Linked DNA regions of Homo sapiens: region 2 is linked to region 1. The links come from fine-mapping of genetic effects on gene expression. A gene starts in region 1. The other region holds a variant in brackets. All regions are shown on one strand. Distances are from middle to middle. Region 1 holds the start of LINC01629 (long intergenic non-protein coding RNA 1629). Region 2 overlaps LOC105370575 (a long non-coding RNA gene).

Evidence for each region. PIP is the estimated chance that this variant, and not a neighbour inherited with it, causes the effect. A credible set is the group of variants that fine-mapping cannot tell apart.
Region 2: its variant is the best candidate, but not a certain one, in a credible set for the expression of LINC01629 in lung (GTEx, PIP 0.54).

What each region holds. Positions count from the first base shown.
Region 1 is chr14:76,955,002-76,964,832 of GRCh38, reverse strand. LINC01629 (long intergenic non-protein coding RNA 1629) reads right to left here and starts at 5,195. Exons shown (of 3, transcript NR_133913.1): 1 at 5,080-5,195; 2 at 2,226-2,502. RefSeq lists enhancers at 2,653-2,947, 2,648-3,047, 3,058-3,107, 3,158-3,367, 3,152-3,687 and 5 more and a silencer at 8,056-8,415.
Region 2 is chr14:76,237,052-76,246,882 of GRCh38, reverse strand. All of the region lies in intron 2 of LOC105370575 (a long non-coding RNA gene), which reads left to right. Among named protein-coding and RNA genes, the nearest start is that of GPATCH2L, 90 kb to the right of the region's middle. The variant A/G (reference allele first, on the strand shown) is at 5,586.

The sequences.
Region 1 (9,831 bases):
TTCCCCCCACCCACCCTCTCCAAGTGGTCCTCCGTGGACTGCTCCTTCTCTGGTCCTTTGCTGGGGTCATTCTCTGTCAGTCACCTCTTTTTTTTTTTTTTCTTTTGAGACAGAGTCTTGGTCTGTCGCTCAGGTTGGAGTGCAGTGTCGTGATATCAGCTCACTGCAAGCTCTGCCTCCAGGATTCAAGAGATTCTCTTGCCTCAGCCTCCTGAGTAGCTGGGATTACAGGTGCATGCCACCATGACCCGCTAATTTTTTGTATTTTAGTAGAGATGGGGTTTCTCCACGTTGGCCAGCCTGGTCTTGAACTCCTGGCCTCAAGTGATCCACCCACCTCGGCCTCCCAAAGTGTGGGGATTACAGGCGTAAGCCACCGTGCCCAGCCTCTGCCAGTCATTTCTATCCTGCGTTTCCCTGGCTCGTGTCCCAGGCCTTTCAATCATCCCATCTTCTCACTCTATACCCTGCCTCCGTGTGTACATGGTGACCAGACTAAAACCCTATCCCAGGCCCCTGTTTAGGGTCTCAGACCACCATAGCCAATGGCCTAGTGTCCCACAGACATCTGGAATTCAGCCTGTCCCAGAGGGACCTTGTTGTCTCCTCTCTCTATCTATCGCTCTTCTTCTTCCAACTCTTCCTCCTGTAGGGAACAGGGGGGACCATGGTTTGTGCAGGAAACCTGGAGTCATCCTTCCCTTCTTCCTTTCCTCTAACCTCCATATCCACAATCCTGTCTCCTAAATATATCTCTCATGTCCATTCACATCTTCCCACTGCAACAACCAAACTCTTTTTTTTTCTTTTTTTTTTTAGACGGAGTGTGGCTCTGTCGCCAGACTGGAGTGCAGTGGAACCCTCTCAGCTAACTGCAACCTCTGCCTCCTGGGTTCAAGCGATTCTCCTGCCTCAGCCTCCCTAGTAGCTGGGACTATAGGCGCGTGCCACCATGCCCAGCTAATTTTTGTAGAGACGGGGTTTCACCACGTTGGCCAGGATGGTCTCGATCTCTTGACCTCGTGATCCGCCTGCCTTGGCCTCCCAAAGTTCTGGGATTACAAGTGTGAGCCACCACACCCGGCCTGTAACAAACTCTTGACGGGTCTCTCTTTGTCCAGTCTTGCCTCCCACTTCCATTTATTATGTCTCTCTGGCTTGAGGCCCTTCCATGGCTGTGTATGGAACACCCCACACCCCTCACCCCCCAGCCACCAGCCATCTGAATGGACTTCCTCCTCAGCCAGGGCAGTCTAAAATTTAACCTGAAAGACTGGTTCAGGCCATGAAGGGAAGCCAAGCCTCATTATACCCCTAACATCAACATCAACACAAACCTTATGTCTGATAAGAAACATTTACAGTCCATTCTCTCGAAAGCCTGCTACTGGAGGCTTCAACTGCATGATAAAACCTAGGTCTCCACAACCCCTTATCATAGCTCAGAGATTCCTTTCTGCTGACAATAACTCTTTCAACCAATTGCCAATCAGTTTATGTTCAAATCTAACTATGACCTGGAAGCCCCCCACTTCGAGTTGTCCCGTCCTTCCAGATCGAACCCATGTAAATCTTTTTTTTTTTTTCTTTGAGATGGAGTTTCGCTCTTGTTGCCCAGGCTGGAGTGCAATGGCGTGATCTTGGCTCACTGCAACCTCTGCCTCCCGGGTTCAAATGATTCTCCTGCCTCAGCCTCCCGAATAGCTGAGATTACAGGCATGCACCACCACACCCAGCTAATTTTTTTGTATTTTTAGTAGAGATGGTTTCTCCATGTTGGTCAGGCTGGTCTTGAACTCCCGACCTCAGGTGATCCTCCTGCCTTGGCCTCCCAAAGTGCTGGGATTACAGGCATGAGCCACCGCGCCCGGCCAGAACCCATGTAAATCTTACATATATTGATTGATGTATTATATCTCCCTAAAATGTATAAAAGCAAGCTGTACCTTGACCACCTTGCGCACCTGTCTTCAGGACCTCCTAAGGCTGTGTCATGGGCTTGTCCTTACCCTTGGCAAAAATAAACTTTCTAAAGGGACTGGGACCTGTCTCAGATATTTGGGGCTCACAAATCTCCATCACCCTCAGGACAAAATCCAAATGGCTGAGCAGAATTTCAAAGTCCTTTTGGGTCTGGCTTCTTTCCACCTTTGGGGACCCCAGCTCCCTGCACTCCCTCCCACCCTGTGAGCTCCAGCCAGCCTCACCCAAATGGCACCACTCACAGGCTGTTCGCTTGGCCTGGAAAATCTCTTCCTTGCTCATGGCTGACTTCAAGTCATCTTTCAGACCTGGATCCAGCTTCTCTCCCTCCAGGGAACCCTCCCTGGCTCCCCAGGGCTGGCTTAGCTGTGCCTCTCTGTGGGCTTGTCAAGAACCATGTGTTCAATGGCAGAGCCTTCATCCATGTGTTTTATCACTTGATTGCATCTCTGTATCCCAGGTTTCTAGAAGCTCTGTATGAGCAAGAACCTTGCCTGTCTTGCACTGCATTCCTAGAGCCTGGAACAGAATGCATTTGATAAATATTTTTGACTATTGATGAATCGAGACTTTTGACGAATTGGGTGCAGCCCAGGACTTGGGCAATAGCCCCTGCCTTAAGAAAGGACCAGGGCTCAAGCTCTAGGGTGAGAAGCTGAAGCTGACAGAGAAGTGAGAGTGACTAGAAAGTGAAAGTAAAGCTGAGCAGGGAGGAAAGAACCCCACGGTGTGAAGTCTCTGGGGGAGGGACCAGGCCAAGAGTTCATTCAACACAGTTGAGTGAGGCTCCTGAGGAAGCCGACGGGTGCCGGGATAGGCGGGGGATGTGTGGGCGGGACAGCGAGCTTGACGAAAACGAGAGAAAATGTGTTTTGTAATTAGTCATTGCCCCCTGGGGTGAGGTTGGGAGTTTTCACCGGAGGTGGGTTGACCAGATTTGCAAAATGACAAACAGGGGCTAACCGCGGGCTGGGGCCGCAGCGGGGCTTCCGGCCCCGCAGGCAGAAGTCGAGCTTTCTAGTTTTTTCTCTGTCCCGCCCCCCTGCATTCAAGGTTCCGCCAAATAGTAGAAACTGGGAGGAGAAAGACTCTCAGGAGACTGCCCAGGGGCCAAACTGCCCTTTCTGACTCCGGCCCCTGCGCTCTGCGTGGTCTCATGGCCAGGGGAAAGGGGACAGGGTGGCCCTTGCTACTTGGAAGGGTCCATCCAAGGATTTTGACTGACTTAACGCTGTGGAGGTTCTGGGGAAAGTTGAAAACATTCTGAAGATGGGGGATCTGGATGAAAGCTACCATCCCTCTTTTCCTCCTAATGAAAATAGCAGGCTGGGTGAGGTGGCTCACGCCTGTAATCCCAGCACTTTGGGAGGCTGAAGTGGGCAGGTCACCTAAGGTCAGGAGTTTGAGACCAGCCTGGCCAACATGGTGAAACCCCGTCTCTACTAAAACTGCAAAAGTTAGCCAGGCATAGTCTCAGCTACTCAGGAAGCTGAGACAGGAGAATCACTCGAACCCAGGAGGCAGAGGTTGTAGTGAGCCGAGATCGTGCCACTGCACTTCAGCCTGGGCGACAGAGCTAGACTCTGTCTAAAAAAAAAAAAAAGAAAAGAAAAAAAAATAGCAAAGGGAATGGAGCACATTTCGGTGTGAAGGTGTGAAGCGTATGGAAAAGTGGAGGTCAGTGGTTCCCCTACAGGCACTCCTGGGGTGCTGCAACCAAATGCTAGGACAGAGACCCCCACCCCCACCCCACTGCCGACACATACACAAAGGGCACACTTTGGTCTCCACTCCTCTATTTTCCAGAGCAGTGGCTTTCGAACATTTGAAATCAAGACCTGCACTAAGAAATGCGTTCCTATCTCAACCCATTACTCAGACAAGCATACTACCCTGAGGCAAAAACTTTATGAAATTAAACGTTCCTTTTAACCTGCACTTCTATTCTTACATTCTCTTCTATTTCCTTTTTTTAAAAAAAATTCTGGCTGGGCGTGGTGGCTCACGCCTGTAATTCCAGCACTCTGGGAGGCCAAGGCATGCGGATCACTTGAGGCCAGGAGTTCGAGACCAGCCTGGCCAACATGGCAAAACCCCGTCTCTACTAAAAATACAAAAAATTAGCCAGATGTGGTGGCAGGTGCCTGTAACGCCAACTACTTGAGAGGCTGAGGCTGGAGAATCACTTGAACCCAGGAGGTGGAGGTCAGTGAGCCAAGACTGTGAAACTGCACTCTAGCCTGGGCAGAGACTAGAGACTCTAGCCTGGACAGAATGAGACTGTCTCAAAAACAAACAAACAAAAAAATTCTGTGTATGACTATGATCCCTTAACTTGATTTCATGACCCACGAATGGATCTCAACCTACAACTGGAAAAACCCACTACTCTGGAGGAGCTGATTCCGTACTCTGCTGGATCTTCAATTCCTGACCGCTGGAAATTGGCTGCAATTTTCCTGGTGAGTTCCTCCCTCCATGTTCTCCTCACTAATACACCCTACACCAGACCTCCAGTCCTAAAAGCCACCACCTGCTTCACGTCACCACACCTGTGCCAATCAGATTTCCTCTGTTCCCTCTTGGACCTTCAGGGACCTCCAGGATAAATGCCAGGATCCCAGTTACTGGCAGACTGAGAGAAGGATGACAGCCCCAAAAGATCACGAGGTTCCTATCTGTTCATATTTGGTGGGCAGCTTTCGTCTGCAAGAACAAAATACAAGCCGGGTGAGGCGGCTCACATCTGTAATGCCAGTACTTTGGGAGGCCGAGGCAGGCGGATCACCTGATGTCAGGAGTTTGAGACCAGCCTGACCAACATGGCGAAACCCCATCTCTACTAAAAGTACAAAATTAGCCAGGTGTAGTGGTGCATGCCTGTAATCCCAGCTACTCGAGAGGCCGAGGCAGGAGAATCGCTTGAACCCGCGAGGCGGAGGTTGCAGTGAGCCGAGATCGCACCACTGCACTCCAGCCTGGGCGACAGAGAGAGACGCTGTCTCAAAATAAATAAATAAATAAATAAATAAATCAATAACAAAATACATAACTCAAGCAATTTAAACAGTGAGGGGTAAAACTGAAATCACATACCAGGAAGCCCAGAGGTCTGCGGTTCCAGGGTTGGTAAATGAAGTGACCACTCTATGTCTATTTCTCTCTTGTCATTGACACCCTTTGGAAGTGTCTTTTTCTACCTTAGTCTCAGTATGACAAGAGTGCTATGTCAGGGGGCTTTTGTAGGTAGCAGAAGGGAAGGGTGAGGCCAGGGTTTCAGCTGGCTGGGCAAGTGGGTGAGTCACTAAGTGGCTGGGCCCCTTTAGCCCCATGTAAGGACAGGCTGCAGCCACCCACTGCCCGCCCCAACTGTGTCTGGACAGAAATGGACATGTCTGCTTTGCAGCAGCCACGCCTCATGCTGGGATAAACCTATGAATCAGGAAGGCCACAGATGCTATCACCCGTTTCTCTCCACCAGTTACAGGCCCCGAAAGCAGAAATGGCTGTGGCCTCACCTACGAATCCTGAATGGCGAACCCAGCATCCTGTCTCTAGCTCAGTGCTGGATTCCCTGGAGCAGGAGTGCCAAATGTGGCAGTGAGGGAAACTCTTTGGTTCTCCCTTCCACTTTGGGCTCATTCTAAGTCTATTCTCTAGGCACTGAGACCCCTCATGTTGATTTCTTCTGCCTACATGGGCCTGTTGTCTGTCGGTTTTCCCAGGAAGAGCTGGGAACTTGAGGGTTGGGGTGGGTGGGTATAATGGTGGCAGAGTCTCCCCCGGTTTCTGTGTCTATGGTAGTACCTGATAGCACAGACCTTGCCTTAACCTAGGTCTAGTAGCATGTGGGACTGTGTGTGAACTGGAAGGAACATGAGTGCCACTTCCCTTACTATGTAGATGTGGAGCCCCAGGCTCAGAAGGGGATAGTGATTTGCCCAAGGCCACACGGCTCCTTAGCAGCAGAGGCATACACTGGGGTTTCCTGGACTTCAAGCCTCCACTCTTTTGCCACTCCCACCTGTGGGGATCCCTGCTTTGCCCCCTAATTGGCTCCACCTCCCAAAGTCATCATAAATGGCCCAGGTGAGAGTGGTGCCCTGTTGCTAGGGGCTACCGGGTCCAGGCAGTAACTCAGATGCCTGCCCCAGGAAAACCCTGACAGTGGAGGAAACGCCTGTGTTTCTATCCCAAGCTGGTTTGCCTCGCTCCTGCTGAACACAGTAAAAAGAAGGTAGAATCCACACTGCAGGCCCTGAGACAACAAATGCTCACCCTTCTGAGGAAAGCTGCCTTTAACAAAGGGGAGTAGGGCTTGGCTGGCCCTGGAAAGAATTTGCTACGGGTGCTGGTGTTAGGGAGGGTATGGTACCAGCCAGTGTGTAGGAGTTCTGCTCATGGGAGGGTGTACCGGGTGTGTGCTGATTCCTCTGTGTGTGCCCAGGAAGACGGCAGCTAGTGTAGACAACCAGGGAGTGCCTGACTGGCAGCTGGAATGCCAGGGTTCTCTCAGCCACCTGTCGGTCCTGTGACCTTGGGACTTAACCTCCCAGTCTCAGTTTTTCTCAGCTGCAAAATGGGGATGCTAAGAATCTCCTTCACAAGATTGCTAAAGAGGTAAAACGAATGGATGTGCATATTCTCCCAGCGGCTGGACAAAGTGGCTTATGCCTATAATTCCAGGACTTCAGTAGGCAGACGCAGGAGGATCACTTGAGCCCAGGAGTTCAAGACCAGCCTGGGCAACATAGCAAGACCCTGTCCCTTCAAAAAAAAATTAAAAATTAGCTGGGCATGGTGGCATGCACCTGTAGTCCCAGTTACTCAGGAGGCTGAAGGGGGAGAATCTTTTGAGCCCGCGAAGTCGAAGCTGCAGTGAGCTATGATCGCGCCACTGTAGTCGAGCCTATGTGGCTGAGAGAGACCCTGTCTTAAAAAAAAAAAAAAAAAGTTGTTCACCCAGGGACACAGCATGAGGGCTGCTCTGGAGGTAGGGGCTGGCATGGAGTTGTGCTCCTCCCCCCTGGGCCCTCACTCTGCCTGCGGGTGTCAGGCAGTGTGTGGTCTGGGGAAGGGCAGGGCAGGGCACAGCAGCTCCCGAGCCCCTCGTCTGTGATTTCCTTCCTGACTTCCTTGGCTGCCCAAGGCAGCACTAAATCAGGTCACCACATCTCTCTCCTCACAGTAGGTGTCATGCAAACAGCTCCTGCCCAGCTCCCAATCCAGGTCACCATCTCCCCACCCACTCCCTTTTCTGGCAGCCAAGGAAAGGGCTTCTTGGTGCTTTTATTCTTAAGTGGCCGTTTATTAGACCCTGGCTATGTGCCTGACACTGGGCCTATTGCTTTAAGTAGAAATAACAGGCACCATTTGCTGCATGTGATATACCAGACCCCATCATGAAATTATCCTCTTTTAGGGAGATATGATCACCTCTATTTTATAAGTGTGGAAACAGGCTCAGGAAAGGTATCTCATTTAAGGTCCCTGTGGCAAGTGCAGAGCCTAGGCTGAGACCTAGATGTGGAGATGTGGCTGATTCCAGAGCCTGTGTTTTCAGCCCCTGAGGTCCCATGTTAGGGGACTGGTGGCAGAGGGTGGGATGGGAGCTGGGGGTGCCAGGGGAGGGAAGGTGTGCCACTTTGGCCTCAGAAACCCCAGGGTCACTCCAGGAGACAAGGTGAAGTCTGAGGGGAGGAGGCTGGGGCTGAGGGAGGGGGGTGGGGGGGACACACACACACTCACCCAGACACACGTATGACACACACATGACAGGCCCACAGGCCAACACAGATGCCCACAGACAGGGACAAAGACCCACCAGACAGGCGCAGGGATCAACATGCACTAAGACACATACACAGACTCAGCCATACACAAAAGACAGACACAGCCGCGAAAATATACACCGGTGATGGACAGGCATCAGACATACAGACAGACCCTGCCACACCCGCACACACCCACGCCACACACCCCTGCTGGAGGGAAGGGAAGGAAGAGCCTCTGCCTCATTTCCGGGCCTCCTCCTCCAAAGCGGAGGGAAAAGCCTTCTGCAGAAGTGCTGAGTCAGCAGCGGGTGACAAATGAGCCTCCGGGCGGCGGGAACGGGCGCGAGCACTTAGCATGCAGAGCGCGTTCGTGCCAGCGCCAGCCCCGGCCCGCGGCGGGCGAGGGGGCAGGGAGCGGCGGCCGGCTGCCCGCTCGGGGGAGGCCTGGGGGAGGAAGTGACTCGCTTTGACTTTGCAAACGCCCGACTTTGCAGCCCAAGGTCACGCAGCAGGCGCCGCCAGCCGGCTTCCTGCAGGGAGGCGGGGTGGGCTCTGGCTGGCGCTGGGCGGCAGCCGGGCCAGGCAGGGGAGGGGCTGGACCCGGGGAGGGGAGGGGAGCAAGAGGAGGGGGTGGCCCTCCCAGTGTGGCAGGACTCCGCAAGAACAGACAATGGAACTGCGAGGAGAGGTCCCTGAGCGCGAGGGCCGTCTCAGAAATGCCCAGGGCCGGCCCAGGGAGCTGAGCGTGGCTAGAGCTGATCCCTGGGGTTCTTCTGCTCGCCCGAAAGCCCCCACTGGAATCTAGTCAAAGGGCACCTCGCAGCACGCCTGGGTTGCTGCAGCCGCCCCAGGCAGACTTCTTCCCTCCTGCCCCTCTAATTTATTCTTCACGGAACAGCCAGCGAGTTCTTTTCAAAACATCAATCACATCATTTCCTGTGATGGCTTCCCTCTGCCCTTAGAATAAATCCAGCCCCTCATTGCGGGTAACTCATCTCCGGCATGAGCCACTCTTGATTGTGAAAGGATGAGCTATTAAAAACGACACCAGGAGGACATGCCTGAACTGGGACTGTCCCAGCACCAGGCCCAACTTCTAGCCTGTTCCCACTGCGGCACTTCTGCCTACACCCCCCTTCTTTGCATGGCTGGCCCAGGTCTCAGCATGAATGTCAATGTCGTCTCTGCAGAGAGACCTTCCCTTGCCATCCACCTGCAGAGGTCCCTGCTCCTTAAGCAGTTATACTGCTTTATTTCCTTCATAGCTTTTACCACCCTCTGATTTTACCTTTTTTGTTTGTTTGCTTCTCTTTTGTCTATTTCCCTCCTTCAATAAAAGCTTGAGGGCAGAGACTTTCTCGGTTTTGTTTGGCTCTGCTGTATCCCCAGTACCTGGAAGAGTGTGTGGGACATAGTTGGTGCTCAGTAACATTAAATACAGAAATGAATGCACCAATGGGTGGCAGACCTGAAAGTGAACCAAGTCCTGGGAGGACAGCCTCAGGGACACATAACAAGGAGAGGGCCAGGGCCTGCGTGGGGGTGTTCCTGTGCAGGATCTATGGATAAGAGCCGCAGGGGCTTTGGGAGGCGGAGTGGGCAGATCACCTTAGGTCAGGAGTTCGAGACCAGCCTGGCCAACATGGTGAAACCTCGTCTCTACTAAAAATACAAAATTTAGCCAGGCGTGGTGGCGGGCGCCTGTAATCCCAGCTACTCAGGAGGCTGAGGCAAGAGAATCACTTGAACCTGGGGGGCAGAGGTTGCAGTCAGCTGAGATCATGCCATTGTACTGCAGCCTGGGCGACAGAGGGAGACTCAGCCTCAAAAACAAACAAACAAACAAACAAACAAACAAAAAAGGCTGCAGGGGCTCCTGACCCCTGAAAGCAGCAGGAAGGCTTTAGAGAAATCCTGAGCAGGCTTGAGAATCTCTGCTAGCTCTGTCTTTAGGCAATATTTACTATCTGGAAAGTAAGAATGAACACAACTTCTCCAGGGTTGTTGACGGCTCCTGGTCCTCTCCCAGATGTCACCTCCCTTCCTTGCCAGCTCCTAAGACACACTTGGCTCT
Region 2 (9,831 bases), 720 kb after region 1:
AACTTCTACTCTAGGGTCTCCAAAGCCATCTGGCATCTGTGCAGTCCTTGGCCAAACGGCACAGCCACTCCTGAAAATGCTTGCTCAGAGGCAGGATTCCCCCAGCTTTCCAAAAGGACAGTCCTACCAAGTGCATCTTCAGTCACCAGTGTTCTCTTAGAGTCAGTCAGGTTTTCAAGCGTTGTCATTTTTCCCTTTGAATTGTGAATTACTGTTGGCTTCGCTTCAAAAATATCAGCTTAGTTTGTTATGAATCCTGTAATGTCTTCTGATGCCTATTTGCAGATCTACTTGGTAGAGTTTCCAAGCCTTTCTCCAATTACTTGACTTAAAGACCTGTATTTTTGCTATTCAAATGGTAATCATTCATACCTCTCATGGTAAAAGATATATTCATGACCCCCTCACCACCATCACCCTTAACACACACACACACACACACACACACACACACACACACACACACACACACACAAAATTTCCTTATACAGAGACCCGGGGCTGCAATCACTGAGCTCTTTTTTTCCATTAGAAACTGCAAACAGGTAGGTGATCAGCCAAAGTCATGGATTCTAGACCCTTCCACGAGCACACGGGGTTCTGGGACATCAACATTTAATAGCAGAGATATAACATCTGTGGGAAATTATATATTTCTTAGTGGCATCAAATTTTCCCATGAAGTCAATCAAGATTAAAGAAAATGGCAGTACACATTTTAGAGTCCTCCTGTGATTAAAAAAAATTCCCCAATACTGTAATGTTTTCTTTTATAGAAATTCTGAAAGTTGTTCCAGTCTTGTGAGACAGTTCACAGAAGAGCTGTGCCCGTATCATGCGCAGCCCAAGTCCTTTCTAAAGGTTGAATGAGGAAAAAGTGTGCAGGAAAAGGGAGTTTGTTGAAAACTAAATGATCTAAGAAAATCAATATTGCATCTAAGACCCTTAGCCTGGCAGTTGTACTGGACGATCCTCTCTCCAAAAGTCTTGTTCTCTGCACCAAGCACTCTAACAGGCTCATCTCTCCCCCATTCTCCATGAAGAAGGATGACCTCTTTCTTCAGTAACACCCTTTTCTTACAAAGGCTTGCTTCTATTTTGTCAACTACCACAAGACGTAAGTTGGAGCAACTTCCAGAATTCAGACCAAAGGCAACTGAAATTCACCTGTAGATGAGCCAAATCTCAGATGGGAATGGAAGTCCCCAGCCATTCCCCCACCAACTTCACACCTTTCAGCCCCAGCATAGCCTGTTTGATTGTTGACTTGCTAGGGTTGTTGTTATATTTGAGCTATTATACACAACACGGGGATTTATTTATATATGTGTATACATACACGCATGCATTTACAAACATGTATACGTGTGTATATATGTACACTCTTTGTTACATCCTTTGTCAGGTACTCACTATGTGCAAAGTATTTTCTTAGGGTAAAAAGAGACAAGAGGGTAAGAAATGTGAGTGTGTGTGTAGAAATCCAAAGATGAATAAAAAGGCAACACCTGAAAAACCATTTGGCAATATGCATACCAAAACTGAACAAATGCCTAGCCTATGACCCATCAATCCAGCCCCTTGCTCTGCGTACATAAACTCACCAAAAGAATGCACAGGAGCATTCCTAGCAACACTATTTGTAATAGCCCCAAACTGGAAACAAACAGTTCATTAATGGTAGACAGAACATCTAATTGTGGTATATTTATACAATGGAATAATGTATCTCAATGAGAATGAGCAAATTACTGACACATACAACAGATTGGGTGAATCTCACAGACATGATAATGAGCAAAAGAAGCCAGACCAAAAGAGTACATGCCGTGTGCTTCCATTAGCGTGAAGTTTAAAAACAGGCAAACCTGATCTATGTCTTTACAAGTACAGAAAGTGGTTATCCTTGGAAGGGGATAGTGTCTAAAAGCGGGGCAGGTAGAAGAATGGCTTTTGTGTGCTGGTAATGTTCTATTTCTTGATCTGGGTGCTATTTATATATTTGTGCTGCTTTGTGAACATTCACCAAACCAAACTCTAAGGTTACGTATTTTTCAGTATGTGCAACTTACTTCAATCAAAATACAATCACTACCCTTCAGATTATAACTGGATACAAAGAAAAATGAGCACAAGGATAACTTTAATAAATTTAAAAACTATCACCAGGGTTTTTAGCTAATTAGAACACTTTTCAGCTTCAAGTAACAGCAAAATCAACTTAACTGGCTTAATCTAGAACAGCTAAGAAAGGGCTTCACATACTATGAAGTCCAGGGCAATAACAGGATTGACTAACTCACGGTCCAACAAAATCTAGCAACACTGGTTCTTTCTTTTTCCTTTTTTTTTTTTTTTTGAGATAGAGTCTCGCTCTGTTGCCCAGGCTGGAGTACAGTGGCACAATCTCAGCTCACTGCAACCTCCTCCTCCCAGGTTCAAGTGATTCTCCTGCCTCAGCCTCCTGAGTAGCTGGGATTATAGGCATGTGCCACCACGCCCAGCTAATTTTTGTATTTTTTAGTAGAGACGGGGTTTCACCATGTTGGCCAGGCTGGTCTCAAACTCCTGACCTCATGATCTGCCCGCCTCTGTCTCCCAAAGTGCTCAGATTACAGGTGTGAGCCACAGCACCTGGCCAAGAACTCTGGTTCTTTCTATCTTCTGCTCATCCGTCCACCCATCCTTGGGCTACCTCCCTTTGATTTATAAGGTGGCTGCCATGATTCTAAAAATCATATCTATGCAGATAATATTCAGCAGTACTCTTTCTTCCATAATATCTTTCTAAAAGCCTTTCCCAGGATGCTATGCTCTTGTCTAGCAAACATCTCCTCATAATTCATTGGCCAGAAATATATCACATGACCACTCCTGCACCAGTCATTGCCAAGGGAATTGGGGCCACTATGAATGACTTCAACTAAACAGGATTTGACCTGACTCAAAATAGGGATGACCACCCAAACTAAACCAGGGATCTGCCATCAAGAAGCAAAGGGGGAAAGGCTATTGGGTGAGCAATAAGCAGGCACACAAAGTATAATGTGGGTTTGGATGAAGAGAGGAGCATCTGGCTGAGAAACTCAAAAATGATGTCATGGGGAAGGTGGATTTTGGGATAGGACCTGGAGGATGCAAGGATTTTATAAAGTGGAGACGGGACCTGGGGTATAATTTCAGGCTGGCTGGCCAAGGTGTGAAAGTCTGACAGGTGTTCAGGGCACAGCAAATATTAGTCCAGTTGGGTCTGTTTAGGGCTATATGTAGGAGCATCTTGGGCGCTTAACTGTGGAGTGAGCACTTAATTTGAGGTACTAAAATCACTGAAAGTTTCTTAGAAGGAATGTCACCTGTACAGAGACTTAGCAGTGGTGGTATAAAGGTTTGTTTTATTGTAATGTATTAGTTATCAATTACCGTGTAACAAATTATCCCACCTTAGTGGCTTAAATTAACAAATTTTAATTATCTCAAAATTTCTGTGGGTCAAGAATTTGGGAGTCACTTACCTGGGCCGTTCTGTCTCATGGTCTTTCATGAGGTTGTAGTGAAGGTGTTTTCCAGGTTTGCAGATGTGACTGGGACTGAGGGATCCAATTCCGAGGTGGCTCACTCAAGGGCTGCTGAAAGGAGGCTTTAGATCTTTGTCACATGGGTCTCACCATAAAGCTGCTTGATCTTTTTTTTTTTTTTTTCTTTTTTGAGATGCAGTTTCACTCTTGTTGTCCAGGCTGGAGTGCAGTGGCACAGTCTCAGCTCACTGCAACCTCTGCCTCCTGGGTTCAAGCAATTCTCCTGCCTCAGCCTCCCAAGTAGCTGGGATTACAGACACCTGCCACCACACCCAGCTAGTTTTTGTATTTTTAGTAGAGATGGGGTTTCACCATGTTGGGCAGGCTGGTCTTGAACTCCTGACCTCAGGTGATCTACCTGCCTTGGCCTCCCAAAGTGCTAGGATTACAGGCATGAGCCACTGCACTTGGCCTTGGCTGCTTGATCTTCCTCACAACATGGCAGATGTTTCCTCCAGAGTGAGTGATACCAGGAAGTGGAAAAAGAGGAAACTACAATGTCTTCTATGACTTCCCTTCAGAAGTTATCAAGTTTTGGGTAAAATATGACTTCTGCCATATTCTGTTCATTATAAGAGAGACTCAGTAGAACCTACACACAAGGGATAGGAAATTAAGTACCACCTTTCAAAAGGAGGAATATCAAAGAATTTGTGAACATATTTTTTTTCTTCCCCAACTTGCACCAGCCCACAACCACCCCAGCCCCTGGTAACCACCATTCTACTCTGTATTTTCATGAAAGCAATCCCCCTAGATTCTACAGATGAATAAGTTTGTGTAGTATTTGTCTTTCTGTGCCTGGCTTATTTCACTTAATATAATATCCTCCAACTTCATCCATGTTGTTGCAAGTGACAAGATTTCTTTCTTTTGTATGGCTGAATGGTATTTCATTGTGTATATATACCACATTTTCTTTATCCATTAATCCTTTGATAGACACTTAGGTTAAGTCCATATCTTGGCTATTATGAATAGTGCTGCAGTAAACATGAGAGTGCAGATATCTCTTCAACATACTGACTGCATTTCCTGTGAATATATTCCCAGTAGTGAGACTGCTGGATCATATGGTAATTTTATTTTTAATTGTTTGAGAAACTTTCATACTGTTTTCCATAATGGCTGTACTAACTTACATTCCCACCAGCAGTGTGCAGGGGTTCATATTGATAATTATCATTTTGATAATAGCCATCCTAACAGGTGTGAGGTGATATCTCATGGTTTTCATTTATACAGGCTTTGGTTACATGGTCTAGATGATCATGGTTAGTGGTTAGTGGTGCTTTCTGATATTTTAGTGCACCTGTCACCAAAGCAGTGTACACTATACCCAATATGTAGTCTTTTATCCCTCACCCTGTTCCAACCTTCCCCCTCAAGTCCCCAAAGTCCATTATATCATTCTTATACCTTTGCATTCTCATAGTTTAGCTCCTGCTTATAAGTGAGAACATACAATATTTGGTTTTCCATTCCTGAGTTAATTCACTTAGAATAATGGCCTCCCGCTCCATCCAAGTTGCTGCAAAAGACATTATTTCATTCCTTTTTATGTCTGAGTAGTAGTCCATGGTGTATATATACCGCATTTTCTTTATCCACTCCTTGACTGGTGGGCACTTAGGCTAGCTCCTTACCTTTGCAATTGCAAATTTTGCTGCTATAAACATGCGTGTGCATGTGTCTTTTTCATATAATGACTCCTTTTCCTTTGGGTATATACTCAGTAGTGGCATTGCTGAATTGAATGCTAGATATACTTTTAGTTCTTTAAGGAGGCTCCACACTGTTTTCTATAGTGGTTGTACCAATTTACATTCCCAACAGCAGTGTAAAAGTATTCCCTTTTTGCCACATCCATGCCAACATCTATTGTTTTTTGACTTTTTAATTATGGCCATTCTTGTAGGAGTAAGGTGGTATCTCATTGTGGTTTTAATTCGCATCTGCCTAATGAAGAGTGATGTTGAGCATTTTTTCATACAGTTGTTGGCTGTTTAT[A/G]TATCTTCTTTTGAGAAATGTATTCATGTCCTTTGCCCACTTTTTGATGGGATGATTTGGGGGGTTTTTTGGTGATTTGAGTTCCTTGTAGATTCCAGATACTAGTCCTTTGTTGGATCCATAGTTTGTGAATATTTTCTCCCACTCTGTGGGTTGTTCATTTACACTGCTAATTATTTCTTTTGCTGTGCATAAGCTTTTTAGTTTAGTTAGGTCCATTTATTTATTTTTATTTTTGTTGCACTTGCTTTTGGGGGGTTAGCCATGAATTTTTTGCCTAAACCAATGTCCAAAAGAGTTTTTCTGATGTTATTATCTAGAATTTTTATTGTCTCAGATCTTAGATTTAAGTCTTTGATCCATGCTGAGTTGATTTTTCTATAAGGTGAGAGATGGGGATCCAGTTTCATTCTTCTACATGTGGCTTTCCAGTTTTCCCAGCACCATTTATTGAATAGGGTGTCCTTTCCCCAATTTATGTTTTTGTATGCTTTGTCAAAGATCCGTTGGATATAAGTATTTGGCTTTATTTCTCGGCTCTCTATTCTGTTCCATTGGTCTATATGCCTATTTTTATACCAGTATCATGCTGTTTTGGTAACTATAGCCTTGTAGTGTAATTTGAGATCAGGTAGTATGTTGCCTCCAGATTTGTTCTTTTTGCTTAGTATTACTTTGGCTATGCAGGATCATTTTTGTTCCATATGAATTTTAGAATTGTTTTATCTAGTTCTGTGAAGAATGATATTATTTTGATGAGAACTGTATCGAATCCATAGATTGCTTTGGGCAGTGTAGTCATTTTCACAATATTGATTCTTCTCATCCATGAGCATGGGAAGTGTTTCCATTTGTTTATATCATCTATGATTTCAGTGTGTCATAGTTTTCCTTGTAGAGATCTTTCACTTCCTTGGTTAAGTATATTCCTAAGTCAGGGGCTGGGCACGGTGGCTCACGCCTATAATCCCAACACTTTGGGAGGCTGAGGCAGGCAGATCACTTGAGGTCAGGAGTTTGAGACCAGCCTGGGCAACATGGTGAAACCTGGTCTCTACTAAAAATACAAAAATTAGCCAGGTGTGGTGGCGCATGCCTGTAGTTCAGCTACTCAGGAGGCTGAGGCATGAAAATCACTTGAATCCAGGAGGTGGAGGTTGCAGTGAGCCGAGATTGTGCCACTGCACTCCAGCAGTGTCTCAACAGAGTCTCGTTCTCTCACTCAGGCTGGAGTGCAGTGGCACAATATATATTAAAAATTAAAAAAATATATATATATTCCTAAGTATTTTAATTTTTTGCAGCTGTCATAAAAGAGATTGAGTTCTTAATTTGATTCTCAGCTTGGTCATTGTTGGTGTATAGCAGTGCTACTGATTTGTGTACATTGATTTTGTATCCTGAGACTTCACTGAATTCATTTATCAGATCTAAGAGCTTTTTGGATGAGTCTTTAGGGTTTTCTAGGTATATGATCACATCATTGGCTGACAGCAACAATTTGACTTCCTGTTTTCCAATTTGGATGCCCTTTATTTCTTTCTCTTGTCTGATTGCTCTGGCTAGGACTTCCAGCACTATGTTGAATAGAAGTGGTGAAAGCGGGCATCCTTGTCTTGTTCCAGTTCTCAGAAGGAATGCTTTCAACTGTATATGTGAACATATTTTAAAACCACAACAAGTGGATACTGATGTTCTGCTGTCAGCTTACCTGGCACATGTAAAGCCACAGAAGACATACCAGCAAAGGTGGCAAAGCACTTCTGGGAATGCCTGGTATTATGCAGCTATGAAATCTTGTTCCCTGTCCTCCCTAAACCCTTTTGGGTTGGTGATGTAGCCACACTCTGGCCAAAATGGATGCTCACTAGCAAGAACTTTTAGTTTCAGGTGAAAGAGTTGGGAAAGGAGCTTTCACCCAGCAAATCAGATCTTCAGCCAGCCTGTACTGACATACCTGTATTTGTCACACAGGATAATGTTTATCTCTCTAATTTTCAGAACATTATCAGGCATCTGAGAAGTACCACCTGGTTGATTGTAACACATAGTACTTTGCCCAAATGAAAATCGTGGAAAAATTCAACACTGGTCAGTATAGAATGCGCATGCTCGTAAAGTCTAAATATTTGCTTCCTCATGACTCCCACGTGAGTTGCTTAGGTAGATTTCTGGCTTGGGTTCAGAATGAAACTAAAAGTACAAAGAGCATCTTTGTCTGGCTCAGGATGTTCTCATTTTTTAATGAGATGGGAGCTCCCAAATGGACCACAACTGGTTGTCCAACCTAGGATGGTTTAAGGGAAAGGAAAGGAAGTTTCTTTAGAACAGTGGTTCTCCATGATACCAAGACTGACAGCAACAGCGACACTGAGACCAACAGCAGCACACCACCTAGAACCCTGTTAGAAATGCAAATTCTCAGTCCCACCTGGACCTATGAAATCAGCAGCTCTAGGGTGAGGCCCAGCAATCTGTGTTTTAACAAACTTTTAAGGAGATTCTAAAACATGCTTGAGTTTGAGAAACACTGCTTTAAAAAAAAGTCCTACCCGCAGCTTATTGCATGTAATTTAATCATAACTCAGTAAAGTAGCTCGGCTGGATACTTTCACTTATTCTTGTTCATGCATAAACACACCAGCACAGAAATCGCACAGACAGATCCAGACACAGGACACACATAGCACAATGAATGGCATAGACAACTGTTCATAGAGTAAGTACCAGAGCCCAAACTCCCTGACCCCTGAAAGTGGAAAATGTGTAGTGTCCTTTCAAGAAGGGTAAGGATTGGGCACAATGGCTCATGCCTGTAATCCCAGCCCTTTGGGAGGCCAACGCAGGCAGATCCGTTGAGCCCATGAGTTCGAGACCAGCCTGGGCAACATGGTGAAACCCCAACTTTACAAAAAATACAAAAATTAGCCAGGCATGCACCTACAGTCCCAGCTACTTGGGAGGCTGAGAAGGGAGGATCACTTGAACCTGGGAGGTAGAGGTTGCAGTGAACACCACTGCATTCCAGCCTGGGTGACACAGCGAGTCCCTGTCTCAAACAAAAGAAAGAAGGGTGAGGAAGAGAATGGGAAAGGGGAGAGACAGAGCAGAGAAATAGGAGAGGGAGGAGGAAGAAAAAGGACAAAATACAGCGTGTTTTCAAACATGATTTCATAAGACACAAAGTCTTTCTAAAGACAATCAGAATTCAAATGCCAGTGATCTTCACAGGAATCTTAATAAGAAAGTTAAAAATTTTTAATAATTGTATGGCTCATAAAACTCATCATGATTGAGGGTGTTGCTCACATCCTTAAAAGAATAAGCATCCCACCAGAGATGCATCTGGCACTTCAGAACTTTCTCCCAAACAACTCGTTTGCTTTTATCTCATGGACACTGTGAAGGGAATTGTTGATTATGTTTCCTTCTTTCAAGAAAACGCAGAATCAAATTAGCAAGTGAATATCAATCAGCCTTTTGTATGAGAGCCTCACGTGGCTTTGCCTCACATTTCCTGCCTTTATTTCCCCTGCCTGGGTGTCCTCCTTTGCTGCACATTTGTGCTTTTGTCAGACATTTCAAATCCTTTTAGGAATGAGGCTGGCAATAAGGAAATACGGAGAAAGGCTCTTTCCCCAAGCAAACTGGAAACCTGGGAGGAAGGGCAGTCAAGGCATGACAGCCATGGGTCCAGTCGGGTGGAGAAGCCCAAGGGGGCTCACTGATGCTGTAGGCAGTGCCTGCGGGGCAGCTTCTTTGCCTCTGGTGGAGGGTGAGTGAACAAGCCTGAAGGCAGGAGCAGAAAGGGGAAGGACAACTATTAGTGACTGAAAAGCTCTTTGCTCAAGTTGTTTCCTGGGGTTAGGAAAAGGCAGTAGGGAGAAGGAATCTGTGTTTTCTTGTTTTTTTTTGTTGTTGCTGTTTTTGTTTTTGTTTTTTTTGTTTGTTTTTTCCGAGACGGAGTTTCGATCTGTTGCCCAGGCTGGAGTGCAGCGGTGCAATCTCAGCTCACTGCAATCTCCACCTCTCGGGTTCAAGAGATTCCCCTGCTTCAGCCTCCTGAGTAACTGGGATTACAGGTGCCCACTACCACACCCGGCTAATTTTTGTATTTTTAGTAAAGACAGGATTTCACCACATTGGCCAGGCTGGCCTCAAACTCCTGACCTCAGGTGATCCACCCACCTTGGCCTCCCAAAGTGCTAGGATTACAGACGTGAGCCACAGCGCCCAGTAGAATCTG